Linked DNA regions of Homo sapiens: region 1 is linked to region 2. The links come from fine-mapping of genetic effects on gene expression. A gene starts in region 2. The other region holds a variant in brackets. All regions are shown on one strand. Distances are from middle to middle. Region 1 overlaps WDR33 (WD repeat domain 33). Region 2 holds the start of SFT2D3 (SFT2 domain containing 3).

Region 1 (11,202 bases), 24 kb after region 2:
TACCAGAAAGTTAGGAAAATAACTTACAATAAATAATATTATACACACATACAACTGAGCAGTAAATTAATAAAATATATAATACTTCAAGTTTTAGGGCAATTTAGAATGGCAATCCTATACTTAATTCATCCTAACTTCTGAGAAGTGCTGAATAAAAATCTGGAAATAACTCAGACATCATCAGATTCTCCATGACTACGACACTTTTAGGTTCTGGAAGACCTACTTTAGAATAGTAGATAATTTATTTGTTTTAGCTTAGTAGTTGAGTTCAGGAAACCCAATGGTCATCTTTACATTAGGGATTCGTGGTGGTATTTGAAAAACCAAAACAGACTGTGCTTTCTACATCTGTAGCATCCCCTTTCTCCAAGTGTCTCAGGGAGTCAACATTAGCTGACTCGCTCACTTTTGGTCCACACTGGACCAAAAGTGAGTTTTCAGGGACAAAACTCAGTTATTCATACCCAAATAATGCCTCCAGACTAAGAACTTGAGAAAAGCATAAAATGCACATAGCTGAGCAGTATTACATCTATTTATGCTCATGCAATTCTTTTCGTAATTCACTCCCCCAAGCAACCTGAACTTTCCTCACACCATCTCTCAAGCACGAGCTCAGCGCATGAGCAATAAAAATTGGCTAACAAAAACAGAATCCTCAAAGAAGGAGAATTTCTACAGAAATGCTCCCCCCTGCAAATACTTTTATATGTGAGCTGAAAACAACTTGAGCAGAGTTTCATCCAAAGGGTCACCATTTCCAGAATGCTCAATTCTGGAATAACAGTCTCTTTATTTCTATTCACTGTAATAAACAGAGTGAGGTACAGAGTCTATAGTATACTCATGAGTTAAATATCCCATCCTATCTTTTAAAAGTAGAGTTGGCAGACAGGAAGTGATTCTGTGGCTGGCAGGCCCATGGAACACCAGGCTGCAATGTAAAGGGCCCAGAAAGGAGGCATGACAGCCTCAGAGCCGACCACCATGTAAAACATGCTTCCTCCTCAGGGCCACAGCTCTCCTGGAGCCCTGGGACAATTATCAGCTGTACTCAAATGAGAGTTGACCTTTTCTGAAGAAACTCTATTACCAAAAAAAGAAAAATGGTGAGAAGTAAAAATGAATACTGAGATGTACTTAATGGGAGTATAACCTAACTCATCATTCTTATGATTTCATTCTTCAGCCAGGATGCTAGTATCTTAAGCTACTGTCACTACTTGATAAGTATTTATATCCAGCTGTGACCATTTTCCACAATACTCAGCAGTATTACTTCTGTGCAGAGTGTATTTTCCCAATGTGCCCGTGAGTTGGAAATGAATAATACCTGGTTGAAGGGGGCCCGGGGCCCATCACCTAGCAGAGGCGTTTTCTGTTGCTGGAATGGTATTGGCCCTTGAGATGGATGTGGCCCTCTTGCTGGGTTCTGCTGTCCCTGAGGTCCGGGGGGTCCTTGCATGCCACCCTGGGGTGGAGGTCCTAAAGAGCCCTGGGGCGGCCCCTGCTGACTTTGTGAGCCTGGAGGCCCTCGCAATTCCTGGGGAGGTCCCAGCATTGATCCTTGGGGTGGAGGCCCCTGCATGCCTCGGATCTCCTGAGGACCTCTCATTTCCTGAGGGCCGTGTCCCAGTAGTCCACCTGGAGGGTGAGGTCCTCTCATCTCTTGAGGCGGGTGGCCCATAATCATCCCTTGGGGAGCAGGACCCTGGTTCTCCCGGGGGCCTGGAGGCCCCTGCATTCCTCTTGGATTCAATCCCATCAGAGGTCCCTGAGACACAGGACCTTGGATCCCTTGAGACCCTGGTCCGCCTTGGATCCCATGAGGATGAGGAGGCCCTTGCATTCCTCTGGGACCAGGTGGTCCCTGCATACCTTGAGTACCCGGAGGCCCCTGTGGGCCCAAGTGACCCTGAGGGCCAGGCGGGCCTTGGGGGCCTATGTGACCCTGTGGGCCAGGTGGACCCTGAGGACCCATATGACCTTGAGGACCAGAACTACCTTGTGGTCCAGGTGGCCCTTGAGGTCCCAAAGGGCCATGAGGTCCAGGATGCCTCTGCATTCCTTGGGGCCCATGCATGTCCTGAGGCCGTGGCAACCCCTGGGGCGGGCCCTGGGGCCCCTGTGGTCCCATGAATCCTTGTGGCCCCCCACCTCCCTGATGCAGTGGAGGACCTTGTGGTCCCATTTGTCCCTGGGGTCCAGGAGGCCTAAACTGTCCCTGTGGACCTGGAGGCCCCATTTGAGCCATGTTCATTGGCATCTGCTGAGATGGATGGGGCTGTTGAAAACCTTGAGGAATCTGAGACATTGGACCTTGTCCTGGAAAAGGCTGGGGTCCGAGGAGAGGGGTGCCAGATGAGGGAGGAGGCTGAATTTGCTCAACTTGTTTCTGTGCAAGTCTTTCAATTTTAAGTTGCTGGAAAGAAAGAAAGAAAAAAGCATGTTGAATAAACAGGCCAGAGCCCTTGAAGATGACAATATTGCTATCATGTATTCTGTTAGGGGACTCTCAAACATAAAAACTGCTCAAACTCTTCACGCTCCAGTGGTAATTAGAGTCCATGCAACACTCAAGCACTGTAAGGAGTTTTAGGTTCTTTCTCATTCTTTTTAAGTCCTGGGACACAGTAGTAAGGATTTTTTTTTCCTTATTTTTTTTTTCTGTCCCCCAAGCTGGAATGCAGTGGTACGATCGTGGTTCACTACAGCCTCACCCTCCTGGGCTCAAGTGATCCTCCCACCTCGGCCTCCGGAGTAGCTGGGACTACAGGCACATGCCACCACACCCAGCTAATTATTATTTGTAGAGACAGGGTCTTGCTATATTGCCCAGGCTGATCTCAAACTCCTGGGTTCAGCTGATCCTCCCGCCTCGCCTCCCAAAGTGCTGGGATTACAGGCGTGAGCCACTGTGCCTGGCCTAGTCAGGATTATTTTTGTCCATCTTGATCAGGGAAAGCCCAATAATTCACCACTAATTCATCATTCTTGGTAGCTAACATAGATAAGAAAAATAAGAACAAGCTACCTGCTATATGAGCAGACAAAAAGGAAAAACTCTTTCATAAACAGGTGAATTCAAATTAAAACTATGTTGGCTTTATCTTTTCTATTAAAAATGTATATTTAACTTAGATCTACTCACTGCCCCACTAATTCAGTTTTTTTATGTTGTTGTTGTTGTTTTTGAGACAGAGTCTCACTTTGTGGCACAGGCTGGAGTGCAGTGGTACGATCTCGGCTCACTGAAACTTCTGCCTCTGGAGTTCAAGCCATTTTCCTGCCTCAGCCGCCCATGTCACTGGGACCACAGGCATGCACCACCATGCCCAGCTAATTTTTGTATTTTCAGTAGAGGTGGGGTTTCACCATGTTGACCATGCTGGTCTCAAACTCCTGATCTCAGGTGATCTGTCTGCCTCGGCCTCCCAAAGTGCTGGGATTACAGGTGTAAGCCACCACGCCTGACCCTAATTGGGTTTTAAAAGTCCAAGATATGACTCAAGGAAGTCACTTAAAAAAAAATTAGTCAGACGTGATGGTGCATGCCTGTGGTCTCTGCCACTCAAGAGGCTTAATGTGGGAAGATCACTTGAGCCTGGGAGGCAGAGGTTGTAGCAAGCCGTGATCGCACCACTGCATTCCAGCCTGGGTGACAGGGCATGACTCTGTCTCTAAAATAAAATAAATAAAACAAAATACATAAATAACACATTTTAAAAAATTTTAAGAAACAGGATTCTTTTGGAAACTAGTCTTCTAGCATAGCAACAGGAAATGGCGGTGTTTGTCAGACCATGGGAGAGCCCCTTCCCTTTTCCTTAAGAGCCTATCAATAAAAATGTCACCACTACCCTCTTAGATCATCTTGAATTCCCCCCTACAGAGCTTCACACACCTCCAGAAGTTGTGGGTTAGTATATTGTAATGTAGCCATTTCTTGCTCAATTTCTGCTTGTGTTTTTTTCTTCTCTTCCAATTTAATGTCTTCTTTTCTGTCATTCAGCACCTCATTTGGAGCAGGAATTGGAACTTTATTTTGCATCCAAGCCTTGGGAAAGAAGAGAATATTAAAATGTACGCTAAGTATGAAAATTACAATGATAGAATGAGAAAACCACTCTACAATGTCATCTGCTCAATCTAACCTCTGAACCGATTTTATTTCTTTTTACCTTTTCTCCATGACTCAAGTACATGACTCATGCTAATTCTTACTGACATATTACTAGGTAGAAATTACTATGGTGATAAAAGCTGCAAGACACTGCATGTTATTAAGAATGCAAAGCTTGCCAGCCTCTTCACAGGGTACATGCACTTTGTGTTGAGGGGACAATTAAAGCACAAGATAGATAAACAATGGAGAAGAGAAGCAACATACTCCCATACTCCCTCTGCTCCATGCCTCTTTCTTCTATTTCCTCTCATAGCATGGATGATAATAAGCAGGTGAGGACAGAACAGAGAAGACTGATAACAAACTCAATACAACTGCAAAGCAGTAGATGAGAACCATGTCTAAGAGTACGTGAACATGGGAAAAATGCTCCAGTACAGAAACACCTTCAACAGTGAGATAATCCAAGAGAAACCTCAAACTAACCAACCAAAACCTCTCTGCGTGGATGAGGTGGAGTCACTTTTACTTACCTGCTGGAACTGAGCAGGAATGGGTTTTGCATAAGGAACTTTCTTCTGAGGTACTTTTTTCTGATCCTTTTGCATCACTTCCTCCATTCCCCAATCTAAACCTGGAATTGTCATTTCAATTTCATTTGATTCATCTTTCCCTGTAACCGTAAAGAAAAGTGGTTTGCCTCTTAAATAAAAGAAATTGGCCACTTGATCAATGAACACATTATTGGAAGAATAGATTTTAAGTATTATGTCATTTATATAATTTTTATCAACATTTCTCAACATAAATCATTTTGGTATTTCAATATATTTATCAGGAACATAAACGGGTCAAGAAAAAATTTGTAAAAATTAAATGTGTCTGTGTAACTTCTCTTACCCATCTGTTCTTGTTCCATAGCTAATTTTAGTTGTTCTGGTATTCCCATTCCTGGAATTACTGCCAGGCTATTAGGTTCGAGGTCATCTATAAATAGTAATACACCATTGTCAATAGAGAATTTACAAAAGTAGCGACTGATAAAATTAATGCTTTATAAAAATGAATGTCACTGATGATTTATAAATAAATCTACTATAAAATTAAAATTCATTTTGTATAATCTTCCCAACATCTAACACTTCTGTAATAGAATACCAGATTTCAAAGAAGGACAGATGTGCAAGAGTCTCACCATATTCTACTCCATCTTCAGACATTCCAGGTAAAAGGTTTAGATTATATCGATCTCGCATTTTATCACCTGGTCGGTTTCGAGTCCAGAATTTGCTGTAAAAATAATTAAAGGAGAAAAGAAGCATGGCTTCACTATTTTTTTGGGCACTAAACAGTACTAGGCAGACCCTTGGTAAACACAACACATTTTTACAATTTGTTTCTTCTACAAATTTAAAATGTGAGGTCATACACTTTGGCTCACATCTGTAATCCCAGCACTTTGGGAGGCTGTGGCAGGAGGATTAAGTCCAGGAGTCCAAGACCAGCCTGGGCAACATAGCGAAACCCTGTCTCTACAAAATAAAAATTAAAAAGTTAGCTGGGTGTGGTGGCACACACCTGTAGTCTCAGCTACTCACGAGGATAAGGCGGGAAGATGGCTTGAGCCCAGGAGTTTGAGGCTACAGTGAGCTGTGATCTCACCACAGAACTCTAGTCTCGGTGACAGAGTGAGACTCTGTCTCTTAAAATAATAATAAAAATAAAAATAAAATGTGGGGCCGGGCAAGGTGGCTCATGCCTGTAATCCCAGCACCTTGGGAGGCTGAGGCAGGAGGATTGCCTAAGCCCAGGAGTTTGACATCAGCCTGGGCAACATGGTGAAACCCCATCTCTACAAAAAATGCAAAAATTAGCCAGGTGTGGTGGTGTGCTCCTATAGTCTCAGCTACTCAGGAGGCTGAGGTAGGAGGATCACCTGAGCCCAGGAAGGTTGAGGCTATAGTGAGCTGAGACCGCACCATTGCACGCCAGCCTGGACAGAGACCCTGTCT[CAAAT/C]AAATAAATAAATAAATAAATAAAAGTGGAAAACTTCTGTTTTAAGTCAGAAGGCAAAACAAAATTTGAATAGCCAAAACCATATTCAATACCCAATCTCTTTATTGCAATATAAGTATTTGTAAACCACTACAAAAATATTCCCAAGAATAAGTTGGAATATAAATTACTATATCAATCAACCAATAAAAATAAACACATACAGTATTTATTTCCTGTTGCTCCATATAAAGCTTTGCTATTTCAATATAAAGCTTACCTAGTATGGTCATTTGAGCCTGAGCAGAGAATATGCCCAAGAGGATGCCAAGCCAGACTCCAGATCATCCCTTCGTGAGCCATCTCCATCCCACCCACTTCCTTCTCTACCCTGCAACAGCACCAAAGAGAGAAGATTTGTTCACAAAAGTTACCCAGCTTCTCCCTCCCCCTCAAAAAAGACATTTTCTGTTACTCTTAAAATGAAGCTACCAAAGCCTGGACTTGGACTCTGGTGAATTCCACATGTCTCGGGGTATTGGCTTGTCATTGCCAAAGGACAGTTACCCTTTCATCCAAAGAGCACTTCACAGGGGAAAAGGCTGCAAGCATTTAGAAACTAGAAAATCTATTTTATTCCTCCTTAATGACTTCCATATCCACAAACAGAGGTACATTTTCTATTCCAAGCTGGATTTACAGAACTGAAAACTGCAAGCAGTCTCTGATATAGGATATATGAACACTTAGAAAAGCTACAAAACTATCATGTCTGCACACATTCACGTGCTCTCTTCACAAAATACACTACTTTTTCACATAAATCTTACATACCCAACATGCCAGAATAACAAAGAACCATCAGACCCTCCACTGGCAAAAAGTCCTTCATGAACAGGATGCCAGGCCACAGCTGCAGAACAAAAACATGGGAAAAGACACAATTATCAGGATCTGAGAATGTTACAGGTAACAGTGGTCAATGAGAAGCATATCACAGCCACTGACCTGTGGCTTCTTTCTTATGACCTCGGAAGACTTGAAGCTCTTCTTTTAGGTTTCTGATATCAAAAAGTTTACAGAGATGATCACGTGATGCTGTGAGTAGCCAATTGCCATTGAGGTTTAATTTCACTTCCATTACTGTGTTTTTATGGGCATGACTAGAAACAAAGTATCAAAAAAAAATGTCAGAATTCAAAACAAGTATAAATACAATGGCCATTTTTGTTGAAAAGCGAATTAATCAAGATGGCAAGAGGTTTGGCCTAGAAGCAATAAAGCCTGTAACATTAAAGGATCACAGTTATAAACACACTTGAAAGAAACAAGTCAACGACAGAAATAATATGCACTGCCCAGACAAAGACAGCTCTCATCAACCAGTTAAAAAAGCAGCAGAGGCTGGGCGTGATGGCTCACGCCTGTAATCCCAGCACTTTGGGAAGCCTAGGCGAGTGGATCACCTGAGGTCAGTTCAAGACCAGCCTGGCCAACATGGTGAAACCCAGACTCTACTAAAAATACAAAAATTAGCCAGGCGTGATGGCGCATGCCTGTAGTCCCAGCTACTCAGGAGGCTGAGGCAGGAGAATCACTTGAACCCAGGAGGCAGAGGTTGCAGTGAGCCGAGATTGCACCAATGCACTCTAGTCTGGGTGACAGAGCGAGACTCTGTCTCAAAATAATAATAATAATAATAATAATAATAATAATAATAATAATAATACAGTAGCAGAGCTTCCACTGAACAGTAAAATTTATCCGTGAAGCAGGGGAAGCACATGAACACAGAAATTAATATTCAATAAAGCTCATTACATTTTGAAACTTCCATAAAGTTTCTCTAATTAAGACAAAGCATAAAAATGGACTGGAAAGTCTGAAAGTTAATTTGAACTAAAGACAATGCAACAACCCCTGGCCTGCACAATGGATATCTCCAAGGGAGCATTCACAAGGCATTCCAGGTTGGCATGGTCATTGGGGTTGTACAACAAAGCAGCCTTGCTCCAACCAATTCACTCTGAATATGGTTCTCTTCCCAATCAGAAAGACCAGGAAATGGATGCTTGGTCAAAAAAATGTTAACATATGCATGTAGCTGTGAATGTTCACAAATAACTGAAAGAGAAAACTAGATTACATAGCTGCATCGTAAGTAAGCCCATCAGACAAAAAATGAGAAGTGGTTCAAAACCAGAAGAAAACCCTCTCGAAACAGATGTTGTGAGATGGAGAAGGCTGGGCCGTGTCTAGTAAGGGGCACACACGTCAACTCCTCACAGTGCCACAAGGTATTCTGATGACAGGCAATAGGCTAGAATAGTAACCACCTCCCTCCTCATCCTCCTCCCCACCCGTATATAACAACCAAATTAAACTTAGGTCTATGTGGCAGGACAAAAACAAGCCTTACTTCATTAAGAGTTCAGAGATGAATCATATTTAATTCATAAGAAGTCTATAGATCCAAGTCCATCTGTTGCCTAAATGACTCTTCCAGAAATACATAAGAGAAAACAAAGCTAAAAGTTAAAGGACACACTGCTTTGCTCCCCTTTGTTCAGGGGCCAAGGTGGGGTTCCTGTCACTTACAGTGTTGCAAGACTCTGCCCAGTCTTGGGATCCCAGAACTTGATTGGCTGTTGACTATCTTTACTTCCTGAAACAACTAACCCTTTGGTTGGATGCCAGTCTACACATTTCACATCAGCACCATGCCCTGTCGGAAACAAGTTAGGATTAAAACCTAATTAGTTACATGCATTTAAAGCAATTTAAACCAAAGTAGAGAAACCTAGTAAATGTTTTGCTCTCAGTGCTCAGTCAACTTAAAACTTGTTTTGTGAAGACTCTTTGGCCTCTGTGTGTCTGGAAATTTTTCAGATACAGTATCCTCTCCTCCTATGTCAAGACACACAGGAGCCAGTCCTCTCCTGGACCCAAGTGCATCTTCTCACCTACTTGCCGGGAGGTCAGTCGAGGCTTTTGGAGGCTGCACCCCTCAAGACCCCATTATGTAAAGATTTTGAAGTGTCTCATGTTGTTCCCGATTACCCTGATTATAGGGCACAATCCCTGTCACTCACTTCAGTTGTCCCACTTTGTGATAGTTCTTACAGACGAACTTGATTCAACCTGAATTTAGGACTTTGGGACCACCATTTAGGAATTTAGGACACCACTTTCTAGATGGAATGACAGGAAAAGCCAGCTTTCAGCTCCTGTTTACTGAAATGCAGGAGAAATACACTCTGCTTGATTCGCACATGTTGTGACAGTTAGATGAGGTAATAATAACAGCTATCCTACTGCAGGCCTGCTATATTTTAGGCAGTGTAATGAGCACTTATAAGCATCATCTTTTTAAATCTTCACAAAATCCTGAGGAAAGTATTAGCATTATCTCCATTTTACAAGTGAAGAAACAGAAGGGCTGGAAGGGTTAAATAACACATCCTAGATCCCAAAGCCAGTCAGCAAGAACAGGAGAGAGTCCCTGAGCCTGGTCCATGGGATTCCAAGGATGGTTACTTCAGTAACCACCGTGCTAGAGCATTAGCTCACTTCACAAGTGTAATAGATTAACTTACTAAAAGTCATAAACGTGAAAGTCAATTTGTAAATTTGAAAAAAATGGATATGATTTTTGAAAAACTGGATGCTGTACAAAGCCCCAAGGATATTTTACATAACAAATAAACTAAGAAGCAGATGAGGAGTGAGGAAGAACATTCAGAGCTTCCTTCTCTACCCTGGATCAAATCCAGCTTCTGTGAAGTTCTGAGGTGGAAACAAGGAAGGATACAGAAGAATACAGACAAAGGGAAGTGAAGTGGGAAAGAAGAGACGGGGTAGAGGCACCGACAGTGATTTGTACCCGTTCATAAGGGGAGACAATTTGGGTCTCAAATGGACATAGGTTTATCCCAACACAATACCCCGTACTGGCAAGCATGTAGGGAGGTGACAACAATCTGGAGAACAGTTTGGCTGTATGTATCAAAAGTATGAGAAAGTACATCTCCTACAACCCAATAATCTCATGTCTTAGATTTTATCATTAGGAAATAATGGATGTGCAAAGGGATTTATCTGCAAGGACATTTACTGACACAATTTGTTTTTAATAGAACACAAATATATTACAAAATAAATTGCAGTGTGGCATATGTACTTAAAGGAATGTGATGCACCTATTATAAATGACCCTATAGATGATTTAATGGCATGATTAAAATGTTCATAATTTATTTTAAAAAAATACACCAGTGTATACCATCACTGTAAAAGGCAAACAGTCAATAACATGAGTGACTGTGTGAGCTTATCTAAATTAAAGAAAAAAGCCAAGAAGTCTAGACACCGAATTGTTAACAGAAATAATATTAAGCTGGAAGGTGGTATTGATTCTCTCTCCCCATGTTTATTCTATATTTTTATATTTTCTACAATGAACATATTTTGTAACTGGGTGGGAAGGGGGAAGAGAGGTTTTGCTGTTGCTTTGTCTTTTAAAAAGAAAAATAACTGAAGATGGAATAATTGAAATATAAAAATACTTCAGTCCCCCTTGCCCCTTGTTTGCCTTAAGAAATTTTAATTAACTATTTGCCCCTGAAAAGGTAGGGAATTTTAAAACTCTATGGGCCATTGTCACCTAAAAATAAATATTATGTATAGCTATGTATGCATTAATCAATCAAATTTGGGATTATGAGAAATGCCTGAGAAAGCAGTTTCAAATTACAATGTACAATATGAAAAGTTCATATTCTTAACAGCCGTCTCTATCTACCCTCATCTTCTCTGGGACACGTTTATTACATAAAGAACGTATGTCTGTTTAGTTTTAAGGTATGTTTAAAGAAGCATACGTAAAAACAAAAAAACTATGAACCCAAAAGGAACCACAAAATAAACTTCAGCTGCTTTGCTTTCTAATGTTCTCTAAAATTTATTAAAGTAAAATTCAAGCAAGTGAGGAATCTCATGAATTTACCCATATCCATACACATCTCAAATATAAATCAAACTGATTGGTCCTGATTCTTGGATGTAATTTTATTCAT
Region 2 (10,879 bases):
AATTCTCCTGCCTCAGCCTCCCAAGTAGCTGGGATTACAGGCATGCACCACCACGCCCAGCAAATTTTTTTGTATTTTTAGTGGAGACCGGATTTCACCATATTTGCCAGGCTGGCCTCGAACTCCTGACCTTGTGATCCGCCCACCTCGGCCTCCCAAAGTGCTGGGATTACAGGCGTGAGTCACTGCGCCCGGCCCTTATTAACCTCATTTTCAAAGAATAGACAACAAGACAACAAGTGCTTTCAGGGACCCTCTGGGAAATTCAAAGAGTGTTTAGACATCAAAGCTATCCCAAATGAATGCCATTCTCAAAAATGACGTTCCAGGCAAAACCTGGGGAATTTTATCTTATTTTATTTTACATTAGGACTCAATATTGGGAAGGCAAAAAGCAAAGTTATCAAGAGATTTAACCACTTAAAATAGAAGTCAAATCATGAGAAACTATTTGGCTATTCATTTCAAACTGACAATAATTTCTGGTTTTTTTGTCTTTGTTTTTGTTTTAGACTGAGTCTCGCTCTGTCGCCAAGCTGGAGTGCAGTGGCGCGATCTCAGCTCACTGCAACCTCCACCTCCTTGGTTCAAGGGATTCTCCTGCCTCAGCCTCCGGAGTAGCTGGGACTACAGGCGCGCACCACCACGCCCAGCTAATTCTTGTATTTTTGGTAGAGACAGGGTTTCCGCATGTTGGCCAGGATGGTCTTGATCTCTTGACCTCGTGATCCGCCCACCTCGGCCTCCCAAAGTGCTGGGATTACAGGCGTGAGCCACTGCATCTGGCCATGACAATAAAGTATTTAAATGTTTATTTAAAATCAACAGAGAAGGAAAATAATTGTACAGAAATTAGCCCTTTCTAAATGAGTTTTTTCTTTCCTTTTTTTTTTTTTTTTTTTTTGATTTAGGGTCTCCCTCTGTCGCCCAGGCTGAAGTGCAGTGGTTAAGATCTAGGCTCACTGCAGCCTTGACTTCCCCAGCTCAAGCAACCCTCTCGCCTCAGCCTCTGCAGAAGCTGGGACCACAGGCGCGCGCCACTGTGCCCGGCTAATTTCTTGTATTTTTGTAGAGACGGGGTTTCATCATGTTGGCCAGGCTGGTCTTGAACTCCTGGGCTCATGACCTGCTGGCTTCAGCCTCCCAAAGTGCTGAGATTACAGGCGTGAGTCACTGCGCCTGGCCCATAGCTGTTTTTATTAAGCCAAAAATATTAACCCAGTCACATTTGTCTAAATAACAAGATTTTGAATTCTTAAAACATTTCTGAGTCAGTTTTTATGAAAATAATTTTCCTTTTTGACCATTAACATATTAGAAGTTACATTTCCCCAACTTCTGAAAAATTCGGGACTATTCCATTTATATAAGGTGCTTATTTATCTCTAAGGCTATCAGAACAGGGCCCCTTTAGCGATTTTAAATCTAATCTAGCGGGGTAGGGCTGCAGCCAAAAGCACGTGAGAGCGGCCCGCGGCCGGCGGGGTCCCGGGACAGGCCCGCGCGGGGCCGAGGTGCCAGGGCCCCCAGAGAGCGGGACGGGCGGTGCCAACTGGACAAGCCGACGCTACGAAGGCCTGAGGGACAGCGAGGCATCCTGGGAGGCGCCCTGGCTCAGACGCTCCTGTGGGAGGGCGTCTGCGTCCTCAGTTTCCCCAGGACGCGTAAGGAGAAAACCGGGGGAGGGCCCCGCACGCCGCTGCCCCCCCACGTCCAAGAGCCCGACCGTTCGCCCGCGCCCCTCGAGGAGTCTGCCCATCCCCAGCAGCACGCGAGCGCCGCCAGCGCTCCCTGGGCACCCGCTCGCACTCAAGTGCAGGCAGCGTGGTGACAATGCCAACTGCGCCCCCTATCTCTGACAGGCTCCAGAGGGGCAGTGGGAATACAGTAGCTACATGTGGCTATGATAAATATATATTAATAGTATATTATGTATGTTACATATAATAATGTGGGTACATTATGATGTTTTAAATATAATTCAATATAAATAATGAATTAACTAAAGTTAATTAAAATTTAAAATTCAGTTCCTCAGCTGCCCCGCAGGTGCAGAGGCTACATGTGGCTGCTGGTCACTGCCTTGGCCGGAGCACCTCCCTCAGTGCAGAAGCTCTATGAGCCAGTGGCCACGGAGAGGCTCTGCTGCCCCAAGGTCGGGGGGACAGGAGACATCATTTTGTGGCAAGTGCTTTGGCACTGTGCCTGAGGAAGATCACCAGGGCCAGGCGACCAACCCAGACAGTGACTGAGCCATGATGAATCAGCCTGGTGAGCCAACATTTGCCACAAAGCCTGAGCCACCCAACTTGAGGTCACCCGGAAAAGCCAAGGCAATGAAGACAGTGACAGGGGCTGGGAAGCAGGACTCAAAGAAATGAGACTTGAGAAGACCATCACCACGCAAGCAGTTAGGTATTCTTTTAAAAATTAGTAAATAAAAGAAGAAACTATAACTGCGAGACCAGCGCATACTGGGCCTACCTTGTTGATGACAGAATGTCGCATTGCTTTGTAGGTACAACAGAGCCAAAACTGCAAGCCATGTTGCCCAGGCATGCACAATGGAACAAGCTTTGACCTCTAACAATACCCAGAACCAATGACTCCTCCCCTCGGAACAAAGAAGACCAGGACAGGACTGGAACCTGAACATGGAAATCTTTCAGAAGCAGGGATGCGTCAGCCTGGGAGACTGGGGCCCAAATCTACCTTGACAAACCTTTCCATAAATCGTTAAATTTGAAGCCCGCCAATCAGACCCTGCCAAGCCAACACTGCTCAATCACTTCCCTTGCCCTCTGATCCCTTAAAGCTTACCCCAGACCTCAAACTGGGGAGACAGATTTGAGCCCCACTCCTGCCTCCTTGCTTGTCAGTTTTGCAATGAAACCTTTCTTTTCTCAAAAGCTGCTGCCAGTGTTACTGGTTTCGCTGTGCCTTGAGCAGTGAGCCCATTTGTTTGATAACAAAACTCCTCAAGGCATTGGCAATGTCACCAGTCAGTGACAGGGCTGTGTGGGCCCTGAGGACTGACCTGGAGGAAGGGGATGCTTGGGAGAGGGAGGGGAAGGAGCAGTAGACAGAGGTCCACCCAGCAGAGAGCCCAGGCTCAGCAAAGCCACAGAAGAAGGGAGTCTCCAAACTGCTAGGTCCAGAGGGACCCCACAGAGCATCGGGGAGAGCCACAGGGGCGTAAGGCAGGGCCTAGAAGGCTGGGTGGCAGGCAGGGAATTAGAATTTAATCTGTAGGAAATAAGGAGCCACTGAAGAATAGTAGATAAAGAGGACATTACTAGATTTCAGTTTTGAAAGGGGGCACTGGTGGGCCTGGTGCGGTAGCTCATGCCTGTAATCCCAGCACTTTGGGAGGCTGAGGTGGGCGGATCACTTGAGCTCTGAAGTTGGAGACCACCTGCACCATCTGTGGAAACCCCGTCTACAGGCAGGCGCCTGTAATCTCAGCTACTCCAGAGGCTGAGGTGGGAGAATCGCTTGAACCCGGGAGGCGGAGTTTGCAGTGAGCCAAGATCGCACCATTGCATTCCAGCCTGGGCAGCAGAGCAAGATCCTGTCTCAAAAATGAGGGGGTGGTTGGCGCTAGCTGACCCGCCACACTGAAGGAAGGGAGAATGTAGTTCAGGTTGCGGCCCGGCAGGGGACAAGTAAACCCAGCTGAACAGAGAGGGCCATGACAGACAGGGAAGGGAGGCAGACGCCACTCTGGAAAGCCCTCAAAAGAAGCGTGGATAACACTTGCTGGGCTCTGGGAGAAAATATAATTTCCTGCAAGTGGGAGAGGATTTGGTGCGAAGGGTGCTGCTTCCTCAGGTCAAGGTGAAAGACCTCGGCAGAAGAAAAGGCTGGCTGTGGCCCCTTCCCCTTGGGGAGGTGGGAGCTGGGACCTGCCTGACCTTATGCTAAAGTCCAACAATACTGGAAGGGAGGACGCGGGCATCTGAAGAGCCCCTGCCCAGGATGTGCAGATGCGGTGGCTGCGAGAGCTGAGGCCAGGCCCTGCCTGGTGCTGACACGGTGAAATCTAAAGCTCCTGAAAAGCCAGGCTTCTCCCCGTGGGGACAAGGCCATCGAGTACCACAGAGAAATAGGGTTTCAGAACAAGAAATTAAAAAAAAAATCCTTTCAGGGCCCTGCTGCATGTGTGTGAGTCTGGGTCCTTTGCATCTCCATCCACATCAACGTCCACTGTGAATGGAGCCCAGAAGGAAGGACAGGCTCAAAATGAAGGATCGGGAGGGAGGGAGGGCTCAGAAAGGCATTTGCCTGTTCTTAGACCACCCAGGAAACGAGTGTGCTACCGTCCATTATGCTTGTGAGTGGAAAGGGTGGAGGGTGATGGGAGCTGCTGCTTCGGGGAAGTCAGGGAAAGACATTTTGAAAAGTGACATTGAAGTAGAGACCTGAAGGAATGAGGGAGGGCGCTGTGAAGATATTTGGGGTGAGGAGGAATGCTCTAGGCCGAGAACAGCAAGGACAAAGGCACCGAAGTGGGAACATGTTTGACAGATCCAGAAACAACCCAAAGGCCACCAGTCATAGACTGGCATGGAGTGGGGAGAAAGCAGGGGAGTAGAGGCAGACAGGTCCCGGCCATTCCACAGGGCAGCGTGGGCGAGGTGAGGAAGTTGCTTCTGTGAGTGTGAGGTGGGGAGCACTGGGGGAGTGACATCATCTGACTCAGTGGACAAAGGTCCCTCAGGCCGATGTGTGAACAACCGTGAGGAAAGCATGGACCAAAACAGGGGCTCCGTGGTGGGGTGCAGGGGGGCGCCCAGATGTGGGGTTAGTGGTGGAGGAGAGAATCGGCTGGTACTGGATCTGTTTCCAAGGTAGAGCTGGTGGGACTTGCTGATGGGGTGCGATTTCTTGAGGTGCGGAAGGAGGGGTTAGCTACAGGTTTTGGGGGATGAGGAGGGGAAGTCAGGAGTGAAGTGTTTGGTTCTGCATGTCACCTCCAGGGTGTCTATTAGATGCCCGGTGGAGAAGTGGGGGACGCTCTGCACGCAGAGGGTTTTAACAACACGGGCTGGGCCAGAGGGTGCCGAGAGAGAAAAGAGGGGATATCCCAGGCGCAACAACGCTGAGGTCTCAGGAGGAGGAACAGTCAAGAGAGGAGCCCACGGTGCCGTCCTGGGGCTGAGGGCCGAAACTCACCGCACTAGCCGACAGCGTCTGGCGATTTTGTAATGAACAATTTTGCTGGCACGGTGGAACGAAGGCCTGGTTGAAGGGCTTCAAGGGAGACAGGGAAGCAAGTGAAGATGATTGTTAGGATGAGTTTTGCTGCAGTGCTAGAGGAGAGTGGGTTTTGTTAATGACCTTCCCTCCCTGCAACCAAACCACAGCAGAAAGCGCATCCAGGGCTCACACAGAGGGACCCTCAGTGAAGGCCTCTTTCTGCAATGGGAAGCCCACAAGGTTAGAAACCAGGAATCACAACCTAACGCTGCCCTATCGTCAGTTTTGTAGGTGACCTTGAGTAGGTTACCTCACTTCTTGGTATTTCTCAGCTTCCCTCACCTATAAAATGAGCAGCACACTCCTGCCTTTTCTATACGGTAGCTGCATAAATGATTAGGTAACATCACTGATGGGCATTTATGCACCCAGTCCACTTTCTAGCTCTGTGTATTTGACTACTCTAAGTACCTCACAGAAGTGGAATCATGCAGTATTGGTCCTTTTTGTGACTGGCTTATTTCCCTCAGCCTAATGTCCTCAAGGTTCATCCATGTCGTAGCATGTGTCAGAATCTCCTTCCTTTTTAAGGCTGCGTAACAGTCCGTTGTATGCATATATCACATTTTATTGATCTGCTGGTGGACACTTGGGTTGCTTCCATCTCTTGACTGACATGAATAGTTCTGCTGTGAAGAGTTATACAAATCTCTGAGACCCTGCTTTCAATTCTTTGGGGTATATATCCAGAGTGGAACTGCTGGATTGGATTGTAATTATATACACACATACACACATAACTGTATACAAATATGTGTGTATATACGTTTATATGTGTCTGTGTGTGTGTGTGTGTATATATATATATATATATTTTTTTTTTATAGTAACTTCCATACTGTTTTCCACAGCGGATATAGCATTTTACATTCCCACCAACGGTGCACAAGGCTTCTAGTTTCTCCACATCCTTGACAGCACTTGTAACTTTCTGGTGTGTTTTTGTTTTTTTGTTTTGATTGTAGCCATCCTAATGGTTTAGCCCATGCTAAGTGATCAGGCTGGTCACTATTATTATCAAGTGAGATAACAAATCAGAATATATTTTGAAAAAGAATTGCATCTGCCAGGATCCAACCAAGAAAACAGAAAGCATTAAAAGGAACTTAATGGGGGAGATTAGTTACACACAGGGGATGGAAAGGCTGAGAAGCCAAACAGCAGGAAGCCGTTAACCTTACATCCACCTAGGGCAGAGGACAAAGGACACAGGGCCACCCAGGGGAAGCCAAGGTGGTGAGGGGAGCTGTGGAGGCAGCTGGAAGAATCTGGAGGAATCTGACCTGTGAGAGGAACCACAAGCAAACACCCTCTAGGAGGCTCTGAGAAACAGCAGGGCACGTGGGTGCGGCCTGGGAACAGATCAGGATTGACCTGCGTGCGAGCCAGCTTGTCACAGTGATGTGACGATGAGTCAGGACACCTGGGCGTGGCGCTGTCCAGAGCACGAGAGTGACACCAAACACATGGGACAGCAGCACCGAGTCTTGGACAAGGGGCGCGAAGGAGTCAAGGATGTTGCCAGGCCTGTGGCCGAAACTGAGAACAGAATAGAGAAGCAGGTTGAGGGTGCTGGGTGTCAACCCTTCCTTTATCAACCCCATGGTAAATGATCAGGATGGTCACTATTACTACAAGTGAGGTAACTAATCAGAACGCAACTTTCCCCAAAAAACCCACCTGAGTTACACAGGTCTGAACTTTTTTAAAAATTAAATTTTTATTTTGAGATCACTGTTTGTGTTCAGTTGTAAGAAACAAGAGAGATTCTGTGTACCCTTTACCCATTCCTCCATGTTGCAAAACTAGCACAATATCACCGCCACGGTAGACGCAGTGAGGCCATAAGACATTTCCGTCAGCAAAAGGGTCACTTCTTGTGCCCCTTTAGAACCACACCCACCCCTGCCTTCCAACTATTAATGCTGGCAGGACTTAGCCAGACCGCAAGGGCGCCTACTCCGAACAAGGAAGAGGGTCAGGCGCTGGGAGGGCGACTGCAAGCGGACAGGCAGCACCTGCGACCACGGTACTTGGGGACACCACAAAAGTCCGCAGAGCAGGCACCGCGGCACTTCCGCGAGCGCCGCAGGCCCTGCCCCTTTCGCCGTCGCCGACCAATTGCCGCCCGAAGACCGAACCGCTTCAGCGGAGGGCCGGAAGTGAGCCGCAGCTTTTCCTTTCTGCCACCGCCTTGTCCAAGATGGCGGACCTCCACCGCCAGCTGCAGGAGTACCTGGCGCAGGGGAAAGCTGGCGGCCCGGCGGCCGCGGAGCCGCTGCTCGCCGCGGAGAAGGCGGAGGAGCCCGGGGACCGGCCGGCGGAGGAGTGGCTGGGCCGCGCGGGCTTGCGCTGGACGTGGGCGCGGAGCCCTGCGGAGTCGGCAGCGGCCGGCCTGACGTGCCTCCCGAGCGTGACGCGCGGGCAGCGGCTGGCGGCGGGCGGCGGGTGCCTGCTGCTGGCTGCACTGTGTTTCGGCCTAGCCGCGCTCTACGCACCGGTGTTGCTGCTGCGCGCGCGCAAGTTCGCGCTGCTCTGGTCACTGGGCTCGGCGCTGGCGTTGGCGGGAAGCGCGCTGCTGCGGGGCGGCGCGGCGTGCGGACGCCTGCTGCGCTGCGAAGAAGCGCCGTCCCGGCCCGCGCTGCTCTACATGGCAGCGCTGGGCGCCACGCTGTTCGCCGCGCTGGGCCTTCGCAGCACGCTGCTCACGGTGCTGGGCGCGGGCGCGCAGGTGGCCGCGCTGCTGGCCGCGCTGGTTGGGCTGCTGCCCTGGGGCGGCGGCACCGCGCTGCGCCTCGCACTGGGTCGCCTGGGCCGCGGCGCCGGCCTCGCCAAGGTGCTGCCCGTGTGAGGACCTCGCGCCCTCGCCGCTGGGGAAGTACGCGGAGCCAGCGCCGTCGGAGACCGCGCCGGCCGAGCTGAGGACTGCACGCCGCTGTGCGGAAGCCCGTGGCGAAGGCCCTGCCCTAACAGCCTGCGAGTCTAATCCGGGAGCGGCTGCTGCCAGCGGAGGCGACAGCAGCGTTGGGAGCTCCTCGATGTCAGCTTTTTGTGCTGGACTTGGCACACGCTCTGAAAACTGAGATTTTGTCATTGAACTGGTGACAGGATGTGAGACGGTTATTAGAAGTTGCTTTCGAAGTAACTGTGGTCTTAGGTTCGGCTGAGTAAAGAAAAAGGATTTTTCTTCGAGTTAGCTGCTCTTGTGATTTTTCTCAGGCTGTTTTGTCATTTTAAAATCCAGTGGTAGATGTAGCTTAGCGACGGTAGTTTTTTGTTTTGGCTATACTAAGACTTGGAAATTATTCTCTCCAGTGTCAGCGAATCCAGAAGGGTATCAGATTAAACACCGAATTCAGCCACTGGACTTTTAAAAGTACTTAAGATGGTTTATCTCGGGTTTTTTCTTCAGTTAACAAAATCATAAATATGGTGCCTTATAACATGAAAGGAAAATTAGTTGTGTATTTCACGACGAAAGCGACGGACCAAAAGAAATTTCCTGCCCCAAGAAGCATGGGATCCAGGAAGGGGCGCGTAGATGCTTAACGGTCTCTTCGGAAATCCTGCAAATAGAAAGATAATTCTAGATCCGGAATACCTGTATCTGGTGGAAACCATGGATTTCTACAAGCTCGAATTATTCCTCATTGTATAGCCTGCTTTGTAAACTAGTTTACAATTTGCAGGCTGATCTTAAGATTTTTTTATATCTAATTGCTGCTGCCTTCATTTTAGGTTCAGCAGTTACTTTTAACTACCTTAATTTATTGCCAGAAGGTATGAGCCTAACATTCTGATGAGTCCAGAAAACTACGTTTTGTCAGTAGCAATACACTAGGAAGTAAAATATATTTAGAATTTAAACATTGTGTGCCAGTGGTCCTCGCGCTTGACTGCACATCAGTTACTTGAAGAGCCACACCTCAGATCAATGCAGTCAGAACCTGGGAAGTAGGTCCCAGACATCAGGACCTTTTTAAAGCTCCCCAAGTGATTCTACGTTCCCCAAGTTTGAGGACCACTTTTCTGTGCATTGGCTTGCACAATTTGAAAGTAATGCTTTTCCTGAGCTGGATCCCAGTGTTGCCTTAACAGGGTGTCTGTCGTGCCGCAGTAGAGCACTGCTGCTTCCTCCAACCCCAAAATTTATGTTCCTAAGTAAGTCAGGTCCCTAAGCCCCGTCCCAAGAAGTGACACAAGTGGCCAACATCCACACTGTAGGCTTGCAGGCTACCCGCCCTGAGATTTGGTAAAGAACACTGCCTTGTTCCCCATCAGTAAACAAGGTTACCTACCTCAGGAGGCTGCTTGTGAGAGAGCAAATGCAGTATCTTCAGAATGATTTATTTTTTTAATTAATTGTAAAGACTTGTGCCATTGGCTGCTCTTTCTAGTCCCCTAAATTTCTGTTCTAGTTTTAAATTTCTCTAGAACTTGCAATAGTTGGGGGTTTTATAATGATGTTTTACAATGTTTATTTCTTAAATAAAAACTTAAAAATTCAACATTTCTCAGCTGGTGGCTCACACCTGTAATCCCAGCATTTTGGGAGGCCAAGGCGGGAGGATCACTTGAGGCCAGGAGTTCAAGACCAGCCTGGGCAACACAGTTAAACCCCATCGCCACAGAAAATCTTCAAAAAATTTGCCAGATATGGTGGCACACAACTGTGATCCCAGCTACTTGGGGTGGGGCTGAGGTGGGAAGATCACTTGAGCCCAGGAGGTTGAGGCTGCAGTGAACTGTGATCACACCACTGCACCACAGCCTAGGCAACAGCGAGACCTTGTCTCAAAAATTTTTTCTCAAATCAAACATCATTGAAAATCTACTTTTTATAAGCTTCAAATCACAACATCTAGTATGTATGCTGACAGTGATGTTTTTAAATGCCATATATATTTAATAAGTATAATGTAGAGGTTTATTGTTTAAATGAATTCACTCTCAAAATGTGATCTGTCAAGTCCAGTAGAGCTTCAAGGTAAAATGAAAATTTTTAAATGTGATCTGGTTATCTGCTTACTGAGATACTATGTTTCTAAAGTTAAAGCCCAAAATAATGAAAATTTTTCCACTAGAATCTCAGGGAAAAAAAGTCTAATCTTGATATGGGTTTGGTCTCTGGATCCGGTTTTAGCTTCATGAAATTTGATTACAGTTTCTCTCTCTTTAAGCTATACCAGTTGGGGGTGAGTGAAGAAATACCCATAACCTAAAGCAATCTTGAGCCTCCTAATAGCATGTTTATGGTGGAGCGCTGATTAAATAAGCTGTAATTTCAAAGTTAAAAAAAAAATAGTCTCTAGATTCTAACACTGAAAAGCAGTGTATATGGCTGACATTTTCTCACTCCACAGAAATCAATTAGCTTTTGCTGTTTTTTACATTCATAGAGAACCAGTTAAATTTTCATATCCTGTTAAACTATATCAGTATGCCTTTTCTAAGCAACCATTGAAACTTCCAGCACCAGCGGCCAGGTACTGTGGCTCAGATCTGCAATCCCAGCACTTTGGGAGGCCACAGCAGGTGGACCGCTTGAGCCCAGGAGTTTGAAACCAGCATAGACAAAGTGGTGAAACTCCATCTCTACAAAAAACACACACACAAAAAA

What was found.
Region 1: its variant is fine-mapped to the expression of SFT2D3 in whole blood (INTERVAL, PIP above 0.99).

What each region holds. Positions count from the first base shown.
Region 1 is chr2:127,717,926-127,729,127 of GRCh38, forward strand. It overlaps WDR33 (WD repeat domain 33), which reads right to left. Exons shown (of 22, transcript NM_018383.5): 8 at 8,726-8,852; 9 at 7,136-7,290; 10 at 6,962-7,040; 11 at 6,408-6,518; 12 at 5,328-5,422; 13 at 5,033-5,119; 14 at 4,666-4,805; 15 at 3,911-4,063; 16 at 1,340-2,428. Among named protein-coding and RNA genes, the nearest start is that of SFT2D3, 22 kb to the left of the region's middle. RefSeq lists an enhancer at 3,438-4,637. The variant CAAAT/C (reference allele first, on the strand shown) is at 6,145.
Region 2 is chr2:127,694,067-127,704,945 of GRCh38, forward strand. It overlaps SFT2D3 (SFT2 domain containing 3), which reads left to right and starts at 7,431. Exons shown (of 1, transcript NM_032740.4): 1 at 7,431-10,879. The coding sequence starts at 7,463. The coding sequence ends at 8,110. WDR33 (WD repeat domain 33) reads right to left here. Exons shown (of 22, transcript NM_018383.5): 22 at 6,961-10,879. RefSeq lists enhancers at 5,953-7,152, 6,147-6,668, 6,380-6,749, 6,669-7,190 and a silencer at 7,510-8,189.